Linked DNA regions of Homo sapiens: region 1 is linked to region 2. Evidence: fine-mapped expression QTL. A gene starts in region 2. The other region holds a variant in brackets. All regions are shown on one strand. Distances are from middle to middle. Region 1 holds the start of SNX15 (sorting nexin 15). Region 2 holds the start of NAALADL1 (N-acetylated alpha-linked acidic dipeptidase like 1).

The links.
Region 1: its variant is fine-mapped to the expression of NAALADL1 in whole blood (TOPMed, PIP above 0.99).

Annotation. Positions count from the first base shown.
Region 1 is chr11:65,023,561-65,032,192 of GRCh38, forward strand. SNX15 (sorting nexin 15) reads left to right here and starts at 3,879. Exons shown (of 8, transcript NM_013306.5): 1 at 3,879-4,076; 2 at 8,608-8,632. The coding sequence starts at 3,978. It overlaps ARL2-SNX15 (ARL2-SNX15 readthrough (NMD candidate)), which reads left to right. Exons shown (of 11, transcript NR_037650.2): 4 at 3,758-4,076; 5 at 8,608-8,632. It also overlaps the pseudogene EEF1A1P18. RefSeq lists an enhancer at 3,697-3,991 and a silencer at 3,841-4,010. The variant TTA/T (reference allele first, on the strand shown) is at 4,220.
Region 2 is chr11:65,054,607-65,063,238 of GRCh38, forward strand. NAALADL1 (N-acetylated alpha-linked acidic dipeptidase like 1) reads right to left here and starts at 3,947. Exons shown (of 18, transcript NM_005468.3): 1 at 3,731-3,947; 2 at 3,472-3,644; 3 at 3,269-3,390; 4 at 2,765-2,887; 5 at 1-132. The coding sequence starts at 3,915. It also overlaps a transcript of CDCA5 not described here.

The sequences.
Region 1 (8,632 bases), 31 kb before region 2:
GTGGAATAAAGAATAACAAGGCAGCATTGCTGCCAACATGTCTTGCCTCCCACCATAGGGCGGTTTTTCTCCTATCTCAGAATTGAACAAATGTACAATCTGGTTTTATACCGAGACATTCAGTTCCCAGGTGCAGGCAGGAGATAGTGGCCTTCCTCTATCTCAAGTGCAAGAGGCTTTCCTCTTTTACTAACCCACGTCAGCACAGACCCTTTATGGGTATCGGGCTGGGGGACGGTCAGGTCTTTCTCATCCCACGAGGCCATATTTCAGACTCTCACATGGGGAGAAACCTTGGACAATATCCGGCTTTCCAGGACAGAGGTCCCTGCAGCTTTCCACAGTGCATTGTGCCCCTGGTTTATTGAGACTAGAGAATGGCGATGACTTTTACCAAGCATACTGCCTGTAAACATTTTGTTAACAAGGCACGTCCTGCACAGCCCTAGACCTTAAACCTTGATTCCAAGGCCGGGCGTGGTGGCTCACGCCTGTAATCTCAGCACTTTGGGAGGCCGAGGCAGGCGAATCATGAGGTCAGGAGATTGAGACCATCCTGGCTAACACGGTGAAACCCCGTCTCTACTAAAAATACAAAAAATTAGCCAGGTGTGGTGGTGGGCGCCTATAGTCCCAGCTACTCGGGAGGCTGAGGCAGGAGAATGGCATGAACCCAGGAGGCGGAGCTTGCAGTGAGCCGAGATGGCGCCACTGCACTCCAGCCTGGGCGACAGAGCGAGACTCCATCTCAAAAAAAAAAAAAAAAAACACCTTCATTCCATACAACACATGTTTTTGTGAGCTCAAGGTTGGGGCAAAGGGGTTGGGGCAAAGTGGCTGGGGCAAAGTTACAGATTAACAGCATCTCAGGGCAAAGCAATTGTTCAGGGTACAGGTCAAGATGAAATTTCTTCTATCTTCCCTTTCTACATAGATACAGTAACAGTCTGATCTCTCTTTTCCCTACACTGTTCTAAGTACTACCCATTCCATTCAGCAATACAGTTAGGGACAGCCCTATGCAGTGCCGCCTATCAGGATCCTCTCTTATATGGGACACTAAGGGGTGGCACTGGCGTGGCACTGTACAGAGAGCTCAGGTGCCCCGGGGAACAGATAAGCTCTCCCAGGGGCCGGGGAGGCTTCCTGGATGGGCTGACCCTTGAGCAGGGAGGGAAGGGTCTGCGGTCACTGGCCACCACCAGCACCTTTGTTCTCCCAAGCCCTGCATCTGGACTCTCTGCAGCCACCACTGGTACGTCAAGGGCTGCAGCCCCACTGCTGGGGAGAACCCACTGCCTGGCATTGACTGGCTCCTGGATGACATTTCCTCCAGAAGGTTAAGTGCAATCTCTGCCTGCCGGGTTCAAGCAACTCTCCTGCCCCATTCTCCCGAGTAGCTGGGATTATAGGCACCCGACACCACACCTGGCTAATTTTTGTATTTTTAGTAGAGATGGGGTTTCATCATGTTGGCCAGGCTGGTCTTGAACTCCTGATATCAAGTAATCCGCCCGACTTGGCCTCCCAAAGTGCTGGGATTACAGGCATGAGCCACTGCACCTGGCCCCCAGCTAATTTTTAAATTTCTCATGAAATCAGAGGCAGCCTGTTGCCCAGGCTGGTCTTGAACTCCTGGCCTCAAGTGATCCTCCCGCCTTGGCTTCCCAAAGTGCTGGGATTACAGGCATGAGCCCCATGCCAGGCTTTGCTTCTTTCTGAAGACCAAGGCACCGCACCTGTACACCTGAATTCCAGGAACAAGAGTGGCTATTCACAATGCTTCCTCTGCAGTAAATACTATGTGTTGTATGTAAGCCTACCAACTTCATGCTGCATTTCAACAGATTTTTGCTTCAATTCTAACACTGACTGGAGCAAAGGTCTCAAAACCCATGCCAGGTTTGGGAACACCAGTCTCCACGTGGCCCACACTGACAGTACCAATACCACCAATTTTGTGGACGTCTGGAGGGGCAGAACCAAGAGCTTGTGAGTTGGTGGTAGGATGTGATCTAGAGCTTCCGAGCAGCGTGGTTCCACAGCATCGCCATCTTTACAGGTGACTTTCCATCCCTTGAGCCAAGGCATGTGAGCTCTTGGCTCCCGCCTGTTGTGACCACTCCAACCAGATATTGGCACAAATACTACTATGTCAGAGTTGTAGCCAATTTCTTAATGTAGGTGCTGATTTCCTTAATGATTTCTCCCATCTCTCCTTTTTTTTTTTTTTTTTTTTTTGAGACGGAGTCTCACTCTGTCCTCTGTCTCCCAGGCTGGAGTGCAGTGGCACGATCTCAGCTCACTGCAACCTCTGCCTCCTGGTTTCAGGCAATTCTCTGCCTCAGCCTCCCAAGTAGCTGGGATTACAGGCACCCGCCACCATGCCCAGCTAATTTTTGTATTTTTAGTAGAGACGGGGTTTCACCATCTTGGTCAGGCTGGTCTTGAACTCCTGACTTCCTAATCCACCCACCTCTGCCTCCCAAACTGCTGGGATTACAGGCGTGAGCCACCACGCCCGGCCCCCATCTCTCCTCTTTAGGGTGGCTCATTGGGATCCATTTTGTTAACACCAACAATTAGTTTCACACCCAGCGTGTAAGACAGAAGGGTGTGCTCACGCGTCTGCCCATTCTTGGAATTACCAGCTTCAAATTCATCAACACCAGCAGCAACAATCAGGACAGCACAATTAGCCTGAGGTCAGGTTTTTGATAAAGTCTCTGCATCCTGGGCCATTGAGGATGGTCACATAGTACTTGCTGGTCTCAATTGCCAGCAGGGAGGTATCAGTGGTGATACCACTCTCACGTTCAACTTTCAGCTTACCCAAGACCCAGGTATGCTTGAAGGAGCCCTTTCCCATCTCAGCAGCTTCCTCAAAATTGTCGATGGTTCTTTTGTGGATCCCACCACACTTGTAGATCAGATGGCCAGTAGTGCTGGACTTGCCCAAATCAGATGATGATGTTGAGCTGAGTCTTTTCCCTCCCCTGCTCCCTTTCTTTTGAGATGGAGTCTCACTCTGTTGCCCAGGCTGGAGTGCAGTGGTGTGATTGCAGCTCACTGCAGCCTCAACCTCCTGGGCTGAAGCCATCAGCCAGCTCAGCCCCTGGAGTAGCTGGAATTACAGGCGTGCGCCACCACGCCCAGCTAATTTTTGTATTTTTAGTAGAAACGGGGTTTCACCATGTTGGCCAGGCTGGTCTTGAACTCCTGACCTCAAGTGATCCACCTGCCTCCACTGCCCAAAATGCTGGGATTACAGGCGTGAACCACCGCGCCAAACCCCCATTTTGGCTTTGATTTAACGGTGGTTTTCACGACACCTGTGTTCTGGCAGCAAACCCATCGCAAAAAAGCTCCACTGCCCTACACAGATTCTATTATAAACATCTCCATTCTACAGATGAGAAACTGAGGCTGAGTAGTTAAGGGAAACTCCTACAGCTAGTAAGAGTCGTGACTCAGAGCCCATGACACCATCCTGCTTCTCCAACCTTCTTTGCTTCCTCTACTTTCCAGAAAACATGAATTAGGGAATCCTGTGGAGGGAGACAGGGAAATAATTTGACGTTGTCCTGTACATACTGGACACAATAAGAGTTGGGTGGATGAACGAAAGCAGGGATTTAGGAAGCGGGGAGAAGTCGTTTGGAAGTCTGTGACAAGGGTTTACGCTTGGATAGGGTGGGCTTGATCACCCGGCAGAAATGAGACGAGTGATCCCAGCCTTCCCAACCAATCTTTCCAGTGACCTGGGTTTACGCTTCACCACAGAGAAGGAACTTTTCAGACGCTCCCTTGGCCGCGCACCCGGGATCGGAACAGCGCTGTCACTTGCGACAAAATCCCTAGGCCAGAGGAAGAAGAGCGCAGGCCTGGCGAGGCGGCGGCGGGCGGAGGCTGGGCCGGAGGGGTGGGGACGGCGAGGAGGTGGAGGCCGGCGCTCCGCTCCGCTCCAGCTCGGTTTCATGTCCCGCCAGGCGAAGGATGACTTCCTGCGGCACTACACAGTGTCGGACCCCAGGACTCACCCCAAGGGCTACACCGAGTACAAAGTAACCGCGCAGGTGAGGTGGGGCCCAGCGCGTACTTTACCCTTTTAACTAGAGGGGCGCCGAGTTTTACCTTAAGGAAAGGCGGTGCAGCCACTGCTCCCTTTTTAGACGACAGAAATGGGTTTCCCCTTTAAGGGGAGGTTGCAGTACGAGGC[TTA/T]GTTTACATCTTTAACCACCAGGGGGCGGGGTCCTGGGTGGGCGCTGTCTTTTTTAAAAGGGCGTTGACGGCCGTTCCCGGACAGGCAAGGCGTGTATGCCCACGCCCGGAGTGTAGTGTCTGGGCATCAGGCTGTGAATTTCTCTAAATTAACATGAAAACTCTGGTTTAATCCAAATATTAGTACTCCATTCTCGTAGAGTAAGTTTTGTTTATTGGTTTGTTTGATGTTACATAAACTCCCTTTAACGAGTTTAACCATTTTTAATTTTTCAAAAAATAATACTGATCAGTGGTTGAAAAAAATTGATGCAGTTCAGAAGGACTTAAGGAGTAAGTCGCCATATCAAGGTCACAGCAGGAAGATAGATAGGCTAGAGTTGATATATGAAGCGATAACAACATCATAAGCACAATTTATAGAGAGACATGGAGGAAACCATGACAATAATTAAAAATGAAACAGTAAAACAGGACACCTGTAGAATGATAACAAGAACTGGTAACAAGGAAGGTCCCCAGGGAGAGGAACTGTGTCACTGGGGACAGGAGTTAGGGGAAGACTTTTTACTGTAAATTTTTTGTACTTTTAGAATTTTCAACCAGGCGACTATTAAGCTGGTGCATTAGTTAACTCTAAAAGCAAAGCAGGCACATAAGGACACTTCCAAAGTGATCTAAGTGCAGAATCTTAGCTATTTAAAATATGCTTTCCCCAAACCGTTTACGTCTTTTCCATGCCTAAAAATAATGCAAATAAGGCCGGGCTCAGTGGCTCATGCCTGTAAATCCCAGCACTTTGGGAGGCTGAGGCAGCAGATTGCTTGAGCTCAGGAGCTCAAGACGAGCCTGGGCAACATAGTGAGACCCCGGATCAATATTAAAATACAGACACACACACAACTTTAAAAAAAAAAAAAAAAAAAGCAAATAAATAGATTGTCCCTGGGAAGATAGACTGGAGGTGGGGCTGGGGTGGGGAGGATGTGGCAAGGAACTGTAACCTTTTATTATAAGTCTTCCCAGTGGTGGCCGGGCGCGGTGGCTCACGCCTGTAATCCCAGCACTTTGGGAGGCCGAGGCGGGCGGATCACGAGGTCAGGAGATCGAGACCATCCTGGCTACCATGGTGAAACCCCATCTCTACTAAAAATACAAAAACTTACGGGCGTGGCAGCGTGCACCTGTAGTCCCAGGTACTCGGGAGGCTGAGGTAGAAGAATGGAGTGAACCCGGGAGGTGGAGCTTGCAGTGAGCCGAGATTGTGCCACTGCACTCCAGCCTGGGAGACAGAGCGAGACTCCGTCTCAAAAATATAAATAAATAAATAAATAAATAAATAAATAAAAATAAGTCTTCCCAGTGGCTTTTTTGTGTCGTTGTTTTGTTTTGTTTTTGAGACAGAGTCTCACTGTCGCCCAGACTGGAGTGAAGTGACTCGATCTCAGCTCACTGCAAACTTCCGTCGCCCGGGTTCAGATTCTCCCACCTCAACCTCCCAGGTAGCTGGGACTACAGGCACGCGTCACCATGCCCAGCTAATATTCGTATTTTTTGGCAGAGATGGGGTTTCACCATGTTGGCCAGAATGGTCTCGATCTCTTGACCTCATGATCCACCCGCCTTGGCCTCCCAAAGTGCTGGGATTACAGGTGTGAGCCACCACACCCGGCCTCCCATTGGCTTTTTAAACCAAGCAACATGCATTACTTTGATATATTTTTATACATATTATATAATACAATGTATTATATATAATAAATATAAAATATAAAGCACATAATATATAAATATATGTATGTATATATTTTTTGAGACGGAGTCTTGCTCTGTCGCCCAGGCTGGAGTACAGTGGTGTGATCTCAGCTCACTGTAGCCTCCACCTCCTGGGTTCATGCAGTTCTCCTGCTTCAGCCTCCTGAGTAGCTGGGATTATAGGCGTGTGCCACCACACCCGGCTACTTTTTGTGTTTTTAGTAGAGACGGGATTTCACTGTGTTGGCCAGGCTGGTCTCGAACTCCTGACCTCAAGTTATCCTCCCACCTCGGCCTTCCCAAGTGCTGGAATTACAGGTGTGAACCACCGCGCCTGGCCTATATTTTTATTTTATTTTATTTTATTTGCGACGGGGTCTTGCTCTGTCACCCACGCTGGTGTGCAGTGGCATGATTCACGTCTTACTGCAGCCTCAAGTTCCTGCATTCAATCCATCCTCTTGCCTCAGCCTCCTGAGTAGCTGGGACTACAAGCATGTACCACTACGCCTAGCTCAATTTTTAAATTTTTTGTAGAGGCTGGGCGTGGTGGCGCACGCCTGTAATCCCAGCACTTTGGGAGGCCAAGGCGGGTGGATCATGAGGTCAAGAGATCGAGACCATTCTGGCCAACATGGTGAAACCCCGTCTCTACTAAAAGTACAAAACGTAGCTGGGCATGGTGGCGCTCACCTGTAGTCCCAGCTACTCGGGAGGCTGAGGCAGGAGAATTGCTTGAACCCGGGAGGCAGAGGTTGCAGTGAGCCGAGATCACACCACTGCACTCCAGCCTGGTGACAGAGTGAGACTCCATCTCAAAAAAAAATTTTTTTTTTTGTAGAGACAGAGTTTTGCCATGTTGCCCAGGCTGGTCTCAAACTCCTGGCCTCAAGCAATCCTCCCATTTTGGCCTTCCAAAGTGTTAGGATTACAGGCCACCATGACCCACCGTACCTGGCCTATAATTTTTTTTTTTTTTTTGAGATGGAGTCTCACTGTGTTGCCAGGCTGGAGTGCAGTGGCATGATCTCAGCTCACTGCAACCTCTGCCTCCTGGGTTCAAGTGATTCTCCTGCCTCAGCCTCCTGAGTAGCTGGGACTACAGGCACTTGCCACCACGCCTGGCTAATTTTTGTATTTTTAGTAGAGACAGGATTTCACCATGTTGGTTGGCCAGGCTGGTCTCGAACTCCTGACCTCAAGTGATTCTCCCACCTCGGCCTCCCAAAGTGCTGGGATTACAGGCATGAGACACCACACCTGGCCACTCAATGGCTTTTAAATAGTTTCTTTTACCAGAATATTTTAGGCAAGTCTCTGTTGTCAAAAGCAAAGTCCAGGGTTTTAGTCCCAGCCATCTTTCTTACTTAGTGTGTGGTCTACTATGGCCACACCTCTCAGAGCCTCCATTTCCTCATCTCTTAAGTGGGCATGTCAATTATGTCTGCCTCAGTGGGATCTAGGATAAGAAATAGATGTTTTTATTTATTTATTTAGTGTGTGAGAGACAGGGTCTCACTCTCTCCAGGCTGGAGTGCAGTGGTGCAATCTCAGCTCACTGCAACCTCTGCTTAACATGCTCAAGTGATCCTCCCACCTCAGCCTTCTAAGTAGCTGGGACTACAGGTGTGTCACGCCACCACACCCAGCTAATTTTTTGTATTTTTTGCAGATACTGGGTGTCACTATGTTGCCCAGGCTGGCCTCAAACTCCTGGACTTAAGTGCTCTGCCCACCTGGGCCCCCTAAAGTGCTGGCATTACAGGTGTGAGCCACCGTGCCTGGCATAGGAGATGTTATTAAACTGTCAAGTACCCCAAACCATAGGACATTATTTTAAAATTATTATGAACATAACGATGAAAACTGAATCTTGTTTTCACCTCAGACCCAAGTCTGCCCTTCCAGGGACTTCAACTCCAGTGATGGTTTCTTCTGTGTCCAGGGCGCTGAAGCGCAGGATCTTCTCCCGCAGGGAAGGAGGTTCCTGAGGCAGAACCTCCCTTCTTTGGAGGCTTGGGGTTCTTTGGTTTCAGAAGTAGATGGAGGGACTTGGTCTGTTCAAGGAACTGGGATAAAAATTGGGCTGATGGCCGGGTGCTCACGCCTGTAATCCCAGCACTTTGGGAGGCTGAGGCGGGCGGATCACTTGAGGTCATGAGTTCCAGACCAGCTTGGCCAACATGGGGAAACCCCATCTCTACTAAAAATACAAACATTAGCAAGCGTGGTGGTGCATGTCTGTAGCTTCTTGGGAGGCTGAGGTAGGAAAATCGCTTGAACCCTGAAGGCAGAGGTGGCAGTGAGCCGAGAGTGTACCACTGCACTCCAGCCTGGGCGACAGAGCGAGACTCCATCTCAAAAAAAAAAAAGTTGGGCTGAGGTTGGAGCAGTCCAAATGGGCCTTTAGGGGTCCTCCTATTTGATAGATGGAGAAACTGAGGTACATAGTAGGAAAAGTTGCTAAAATTACACGCGAAGGCTTAAAGCCAGGGTGCCTTGATGCCAGAGGCCAATGGCCAAAGGCTACTGCCCCGTGAGGGGGACTAGGAGGCACCTGGGGCATTACAGGGTGAGAGGGTGTCAGATGGCAGTCTCTGGTCTCAACCAGCTCTTGCCTTTCTTTCTCAGTTCATCTCAAAGAAGGACCCAGAGG
Region 2 (8,632 bases):
CTCCACTCCTGAGGGGGGCAGGTACCAGGAGTTGGGAAAGGTTTCGTCGGGTGAGCTCAGCCCATCGTTGATGTCGGCAGGGTCTGTGTACACCAGCACCCCAGCTACCCCGTGCTTGGCAGCGTTCACAGCCTGCAGTGGGCAGAGGAGGCTGTGTGTAAGGGAGGGACCGGGACCAGATATGTCCTATTCCTCTTCCTCCTTCCTCGACTGTGGAAGCCAGGATAGACCAATCTTCCATGGGCAAGATGACGTTTGCACAAGTCATTTATGGCAGTGCCTCTTGCAACAGTAAAGGCCAGTTCGGCACAGCCAAGCCCGTGCCTATCAGTGGAGTCTGGTTGAATAACAGGGACATCCTACAGTGGAATACCATGAAGCTGCATAAAATAACACAGTTGTGTACTCATGTCCACAGCAGCATTATCCTCAACGGCCAAAAGGAGGAAATAGCCCAAGTGTCCATCAACAGATGAATGGCTAAACCAAATGTGGGCTGTAACATACAATGGAGGCCGGGTGGGGTGGCTCACGCCTGTAATCCCAACACTTTGGGAGGCTGAGGCAGGCAGATCACCTGAGGTGGGATCACCTGAGGTCAAGACCAGCAGGTAGATCACCTGAGGTCAAGACCAGCCTGGCCAACATGGTGAAACCTTGTCTCTACTAAAAATACAGAAATTAGCCAGGTGTGGTGGTACACACCTGTAGTCCCAGCTATTTGGGAGGCTGAGGCACGAGAATCGCCTGAACCTGGGAGGTGGAGGTTGCAGTGAGCTGAGATCATGCCACTGCACTCCAGCCTAGGTGACAGAGCAAGACTCTGTCTCAAAAAAACCCCAACAAACAAACAAACAAAAAACAATGGAATATTATTCAGCCTAAAAAGAAAGAAAGTTCTGATACATCAATGAGCCTTGAAGATGTTATGTTAAGTGAAATAAGCCAGACATAAAAAGACAAATATCTTATACTTTCACTTATGCGAGGTACCTAGAATAGGCAAATTCATAGAGACAGAAAGTAGAATTGAGGTTACAGAAAATAGAATAGGGGCTGGGGCAGGGACCTGGGGAGTTATTGTTAAATAAAGTTTCTGTTTGAAATGATGAAAAGGTTCTGGAAATGGGTAGTGGTGATGGTTAATTAATAATCTGTGTATTTCTACACTGCTTGTTCCCCTTTCTTTTTCTTTTCCTTTTTTCCCTTTCTTTTCTTCCTTCCTTTCTCTCCACCTTCCTTCTTTCTTTCTCTTTTCCCAGCTCTTATTATGGACACCTTTTTTTTTTTTTTTTTGAGATGAGGTCTTGCTCTTGTCCCCCAGGCTGGAGTGCAATGGCATGATCTCGGCTCACTGCAACCTCTGCCTCCTGGGTTCAAGTGATTCTGCTGCCTCAACCTCTGAGTAGCTGGGATTACAGGTGCCTGCCACCATGAGCGGCTATTTTTTGTATTTTTAGTAGAGACAGGGTTTCACCATGTTGGCCAGGCTGGTCTCGAACTCCTGACCTCAGGTAATCCACCTGCCTTGGCCTCCGAAAGTGCTGGGATTACAGGCATGAGCCACCGCGTCCAGCCCACTTTTAAAAAAATTGTGGTAAAATACACATAACATAAACTTAGCATGTGGAGTATGCAGTTCAGTGGCATTCAGTACATCCATATTGTGCAACATCACCACCATTCATCTCTAGAACTCTTCATCTGACAAATCCGAAACTCGGTCCCCATTAAATACCAACTATCCCTTCCCCTCTCTCATTCTACTCTTTTTATATTAATTTTGTTTGTTTGTTTGTTTTTTGTTTTTAGAGATGGAGTCTCGCTCTGTCACCCAGGCTGGAGTGCAGTGGCACAATCTTGGCTCACTGCAACCTCCACCTCCTGGGTTCAAGCAATTCTCCTGCCTCAGCCTCCTGAGTAGCTAGGACTACAGGTGCACGCTGCCACACCCAGCTAATTTTTGTTTTTTTGTATTTTAGTAGAGATGGGGTTTCACCGTGTTGCCCAGGCTGGTCTTGAACTCCTGAACTCAGGCAATCCGCCTGCCTTGGCCCCGCAAAGTGCTAGGATTACAAGCGTGAGCCACCACGCCCATGCCCAGCCTTTTTTTTTTTTTTTTTTTTTTTAAATCAGAGTCTCGATGTCTCCCAGGCTGGAGAGTGCAGTGGTGCAATCTCAGCTCACTACCATCTCTGCCTCCCAGGTTCAAGCAGTTCATCTGCCTGAGCCTCCCCAGTAGCTGGGATTACAGGCATGCACCACCATGTGTGGCTAATTTTGTATTTTGAGTAGAGATGGAGTTTCACCATGTTGGCCAGGCTGGCCTTGATCTCCTGACCTCAGGTGATCTGCCCACTTCGGCCTCCCAAAGTGCTGGGATTATAGGCGTGAGCCACAGCGCCCGGCCCCTAGTCAGAATTTTTGATGGAAAAGAAATGGCAGGGAGAGGGCCAACAGGAGGGACTTAAGTTGAATATTCAAAACTATTTCACAGGAGGACTTAGACTTCTGGAATACCAAACCTGAAAATTGTACTCAACCCCTTTATTTCCTACAGCTCAGAGAGGGTCAGGGAGGCATCCGAGGCCACACAGCCCATTGGTGGGACAACCCGAAAACACCTTGCCTTTCCTGCCCCACCCTGGGGCTTGGTTCCCCACTCAACACTGCCTCTTCTCCTTCCCCTTCCCCTCACTTCCTCCAGTCCACTGCCCAGCCCCTTCCTCACCGAGGCCTCCTGCACTGGGGGACTGCCACTCACCTTGGCCCCACGCCCTACACCCCCATATCGAGTCAGGGCAATGGTGCCTTCAAGTTTGATGCCCTGAGTCTGTAGCTCCTTAAAGTCTTCTTCCGCGCCCCGGTTGGCATAGACGAGGAGGCCCTAGTCCCAAGAGGGGGTGATCCTTAGAGCTGGGCCCAGCGAAGTGTGGGTGGGGAAGGGGGGTGGAAGTTTGCATGGCAGGAGGGAGAATTTAGATTCTGTTCCCCCACCTCACCCAGAGCTTGTAAGCTCCCCAAGAACAGTCACCCCTCATTTCCTCCATGTCTGGGTGCCCTGTAACAGACCTGGCCTTGAGCAGAGCCACTAGTGTTTGTTGAATGACTGATGGAGGAAAGGAGCAGCGATGGAGTGTCCCGGTGAGTAAATTCCGGAGGGCGCGCTGTGCCCCAGTTGAGGCACGTTCCCTGGGTCAGGGTGGGGAGAACCCTGGGTGGAACCAAGGGAGCTGGGCCAGAGCAGTAGGGGGGGTTCTGGGCCCACCTGTGGGGTTCCAGAAGGAGCATAGGCAGCATAGGGTTGTACCACATCTGGCCCCCCTTGCTCCCCGGTCACGTTCTCCTCAGTCCGGTGGCAGGAGTGGATGATGCCCCCAGTGGGGCCCACTGTTGGAGGGGTGGCAGTATCATGGCTGGGCCCAGCAGCTCCCCACCCCCGGGCATTCCCAAGACTGGGCAGGACCTCACCGATGTCCACGACGTTGGGCTGCTCCTGGCTAGGGAAGGACAGCAGCACTTCGTACGTGGAGGCCTCGGCCGAGTCCAGGCCTGACTCTGGGTCCTTCCAGCGCTGCAGCAGCAGCTGCACCAGGTCCTCATCCCGAGGGCTGGAGGCCAGGTGTGGCTCCCTGGAGAGTTCTCTGCAGGGTGGGCAGAGGGAGGGGCAGGGCCAGCATCAGGGAGGGGGCCTCTGGCAAACGGAGGAGCAGATGGCCCCACTTCTCACCTGAGGTTCTCCCGGATCCTGTGGGCATCCAGCTGCCCCATGACGGTCTCCAGGATCTCCAGGTCCAGGTCCTGGGGGGCCAGTGAGTTGGCTTTTTTGGGGATGGCAAAGTGGCCGAGGATGATCCCCAGCCCCAAGAGGGCAGCAGCCCCCAGCCCCAGCCCCAACACCTTCGTCCACTGCATCCTGCGGACTCTTGGCCAGCTGGGGTAGGACTGGTCTATAGGTTATTCCCTATAGAGGGGGTGTTGTGCCTGGTTAAACATTACCCCATGGGTGGCACTGCCCTTTGACCCCCAGCTGGCAGGGAGAGTGAGGGAACATCCCGCAGTGAGAGCCAGGAGCCATCCACATCCACCACATCCTGCACCATTTGCCTGGAATGGCTCTCCAAGGGCAGCAAGGTCACCCAGGGACACTGAAGCCGAGAGGGAAGGGGCTCATCCAGGGTGTCCCAGGAAAACAGAGGCCAAGCCAGGGCTGGAACTCAGAGCTCCTGTGTTCACAGCAGGGCCGTGCCCACTGCCCACCCTCACTGCCTCTGCCTCCCTCCAAGGCAGCCGATCTACAGCATACCCAGCCCTACCTGCCTGAGCAGATTTTGAGTTGAGATCCCCCTTCTTGCTGGACGTAAGCTGTGTGACCTTGGGCAATCCACTCAGCTTCTCTACACCTGTTTTCTTTTTTTTTTTTCTAGACTGTGTCTTCCACTGACACCCAGGCTGGAGTCCAGTGGTGTGATCTCGGCTCACTGCAACCTCCACCTCCCGGGCTCAAGTGATTCTCCTGCATCGGCCTCCCGAGTAGCTGGGATTACGGGTGTGCACCACCATGTCCAGCTAATTTTTGTATTTTTAGTAGAGATGGGGTTTCACCATGTTGGCCAGGCTGGTCTCAAACTCCTGATCTCAGGTGATCACCCGCCTCAGCCTCCCAAAGTGCTGGGATGACAGGAGTGAGCCACCGTGCCGGCTATGGTGTCATTTTCATTAAACAATATGGCATCTGTAGAAATAGCTAGTGCAGTGTCTGACATGTAGTGGGAGCTCATCAATTTTAACTACTCATCCCTCATCTGACTCTGGAAAATGTAAGGCCTAGAGCTAAAGGAAGAAGGAGGACCCAGAAGAACTCTCTGTGTCTATCCTGAAGGGAGCCCAGCGATACGAGGAATGGGAGTCCTGGGAAGGGAGGCTGTCCCAGAGGAGGCAGCAGGGGAAGCCCATGCCTCCCTGGCGAGGTGACTTCCTCTTCTATCCCCTGGCTCTGCCTGGACTCCGTCATCCACCCTCCTATTTATCCATCCACCCATCCCTCCATTCACTTATTCATTCCTTCCTTTATACATGCAAGCACTGTTCATTCTGTGCTATACTAGAGCCATGCAAGGCTGTGGGGAAGCAAAATCCAGCAGGCGAGGCAGACAGGCTTTAGGTTCAGCCATGTGGTAAGTGCCCTGTAGAGGGAGGATCACCATGCTCCCAGTGAAAGAGTGAGGAGTTCTGACTAGGAGGGAACATCTGAGGGGGTCCTCCAAGGCTGAAAAGGTGTTCCAGCATTTGCAAGGGCTGAGAGGGAAGTGAGACCCCAAGTATGCCATACACATACTGAGCCTCTTCCAGACCTCACGGAGAGCCAGGAGGGGCTGGGGGGGTCCCTAGGGACTTGAGCTGGGACTTCTCCCACCCTCCCATGGCCTATCCTGCCTTGACTCTGCCTCGCAGGTTGCAGCCCATGGATGGGCTCAAAGATGCCTGCAGAGCTTGGGGGCTGGATCAGGGCAGAGCGTGTGTGTGTGTGTGTGTGTGTGTGCACGTGCATGTGTGTGTGTGTGATTTCACAGACCCCTCTCAGAGCAGCCTCCTTCCTGCTCACAACCCCATTTTGCTGGCACCACCATCTCTTGTGCTGCTGGTGAGGAGGTTCAGCATGGGAGGACTAGGGGTGGCTGGGAAGGGATGTCATGTGATCAGTGACTTCAGGGAGGTGCACCAGGAAGCCACAGTTCTTGGCAACGTGATTATCGACGCCCAGAATATGACCTTGGATCTTATCAGAAGCCCATCGGTGCAGGGAGCATACACCTTCCTTATGAGGACACAGGACAGTCACCACCAGGTGGGGAGTGGGATGCCAAGGTCAGCTGATAAGTTGAGGGACTGAGGCAGCAACCCCATGGTCCTACCCCACCCACTCCTGGAAGGATTTAACCCCTCAATCATGTGAAGTCACAAACAGGACGCCTGGACAAAAGTGTGTGACATCTGAGTGATAACACCTGGGACTGTGGTTTGTGTTGGAGAGTGTGTAAACAGCTGTGTGTGTGACACCCAAGAGATCCACTCAGGCTGTTGGAATCCACTGGTGTCTACATGGCTGTAGGCACCAGACGTTAACTTAGTCAATTTTCTTTCCTTCATCTTTGCTGTGTGGGTGGTATGGCCCCTCCCAGAACATTCTGGATTGTGGGAGTTCCTAGAAATAACTTACGGTAGTTAGAGCACATGAACACCTTTCATTTTCCTGCCTTATTCTCCCAATGGCTCTGGGTCCAAGGGGTCTTCAATCCTCCAGGACCAGCAATGCACTGCTGCTGGCTCCCTCCCCACTCTCCACCTGCCCCACACACTTGCCTCCGTCCCACCCTCCTTCACCTCCCACGTGTACTCACCTTGCCCAGTTTGAGGCCCTGGAAGCCCTCTTAACCCCCAATCCTCTCTGCTTTGGTCACATCCACTGGGAAAACACCATTCTGGTTACTTCTGACTCACTTTCTGCTTCTTCTGCGCCTGCACCCTTGCCCCTGGATGTGCCTGCAGAGTCACGTGGCCTCCCGGACACCATGTTGTGAAGACACTCAAGCAGCCCTGTGGACAGGCCTCATGGTGAGGCGCTAAAGCCTCCTGCCAACATTCAGCACTAACTTGCCAGCCCTGTGAATAAACCAACTTGGAAATGGGTCCTCCAGCACCAGCCAAGCCGTCAGAATACAGCGGCCCCTGCTGGAATCTTGACTGCAGCCTCACGAGAGTCCCTCAGCCAGTACCACCCAACCAAGCCACTTTCAGATTCTTAACCTGTGGACACTGTGTGAGATAATACATGTTTATGGTTTTGGGCTACTAGGTTTTGGAGTGATTATAACCGAGCAAAATAGGCCAGGCGCGGTGGCTCACGCCTATAATCCCAGCACTTTGGGAGGCGGAGACGTGCGGATCATGAGGTGAGGAGATCAAGACCATCCTGGCTAACATGGTGAAAGCCCGTCTCTACTCAAAATACAAAAAAATTAGCCGGGCGTGGTGGCGGGCACCTGTAGTCCCAGCTACTCTGGAGGCTGAGGCAGGAGAATGGCGTGAACCTGGGAGGCAGAGCTTGCAGTGAGCCGAGATAGCGCCACTGCACTCCAGCCTGGGTGACAGAGTGAGACTCCGTCTCAAGAAAAAAAAAAAAAAAAAACAAAAAAAACCACAGCAAAATGGAGAACCAATACAAATGACTAAATATAGACCAGAAACCCGCAAGTATATGTCTCCAATCTAACCCATCCCCGAACTCTTGTATTTCCAGCTGCCTAATTTTTTTTTTTTTTTTTTTTTTTGAGACAGAGTTTCGCTTTTGTTGCCCAGGCTGGAGTGCAATGGCGCGATCTCGGCTCACCGCAACCTCTGCCTCCCAGGTTCAAGTGATTCTCCTGCCTCAGCCTCCTGAGTAGCCGGGATCACAGGCATGCGCCACCATGCCCAGCTAATTTTGTGTTTTTAGTAAAGATAGGGTTTCTCCATGTTGGTCAGGCTGGTCTCAAACTCCCAACCTCAGGTGATCCGCCCGCCTTGGCCTCCCAAAGTGCTGGGATTACAGGCGAGAGCCACCGTGCCCAGCCTGCAGTGGCCTCTTAACTGGCCTCTCTGATTGTATTCTTGTCCCCTCTAGTTTTTTTCTCTACATAGCAGTCAGACTCATCTTTGTGAAACCCAGGTCCGCCATGTCACGACCGTGCTCACAGCCCTCCAAGTCTCCCTTTACACTCAGAGTAACAGTCATGACAGTGGCCATAGAGCCCTTCATGTCTCAGACCCGGTCCCCTCCCTGTCCTCCTCACTCACGGCTCCTGTAGCTCTGGCCTGCTACTGTCCCCTGAGCCTACCAGGCACACTCCTGACTCAGTGCCTTTGTGTTGGCAGCTCCCGCTCCCTAGAACCCTGCTCCCCAGCTGTCCACAGGGCTCCTTCCCTCAGGTCCTTTGTGTCTTTGCTCAAATGTCACTTCTCAATGAGCTCTTCCCTGACTACTCTATCTGAAATTGCATTCCTGGCTGGGTGCAGTGGCTCATACCTATAATCCCAACACTTTGGGAGGCTGAGGCAGGAAGATCGCTTGAGTCCAGAAGTTCAAGACCAGCCTGGGCAACATAGTGAGAATCCATGTTTAAAAATACATAAATAAAATAAAATTGCATTCCTCCCCCTCCCTCAGGCTTCCTCTTCCTCTGTGGCTTCATTTTTCTCCATTGCATCTATCCTCATGTTACTTGTTCATTATTTCTTGCTGCCCCTCCCAGAGCGTAAGTTCTACCAGGGCAGACATCTTTGTTTTATTCACTGCCGAAGCCCCAGAGTCCAGAGCAGTGCCCGGCACCTATGAGGCACTCAACAAGTATTTGTAGATTGGAGGCAAAGCTGACCTACGCCAGCACAGCAACTCAACACTCCTGCTCCAGCTGTCTTCTGTCCAAGGGGTGTTCAGAGCAATAAGAGATGTAAAAGGTGGGCACGAGACCCCTGGGAAGCAGATCCCCTCTGGGTAAGCCCCACCAGACTGCCAAGGCAGCCATGCATAGGACACCTGCGTAACAGGCGCAGGTGCCCTCACAAGATGGGGATGGGATCTAACAGACTTTCA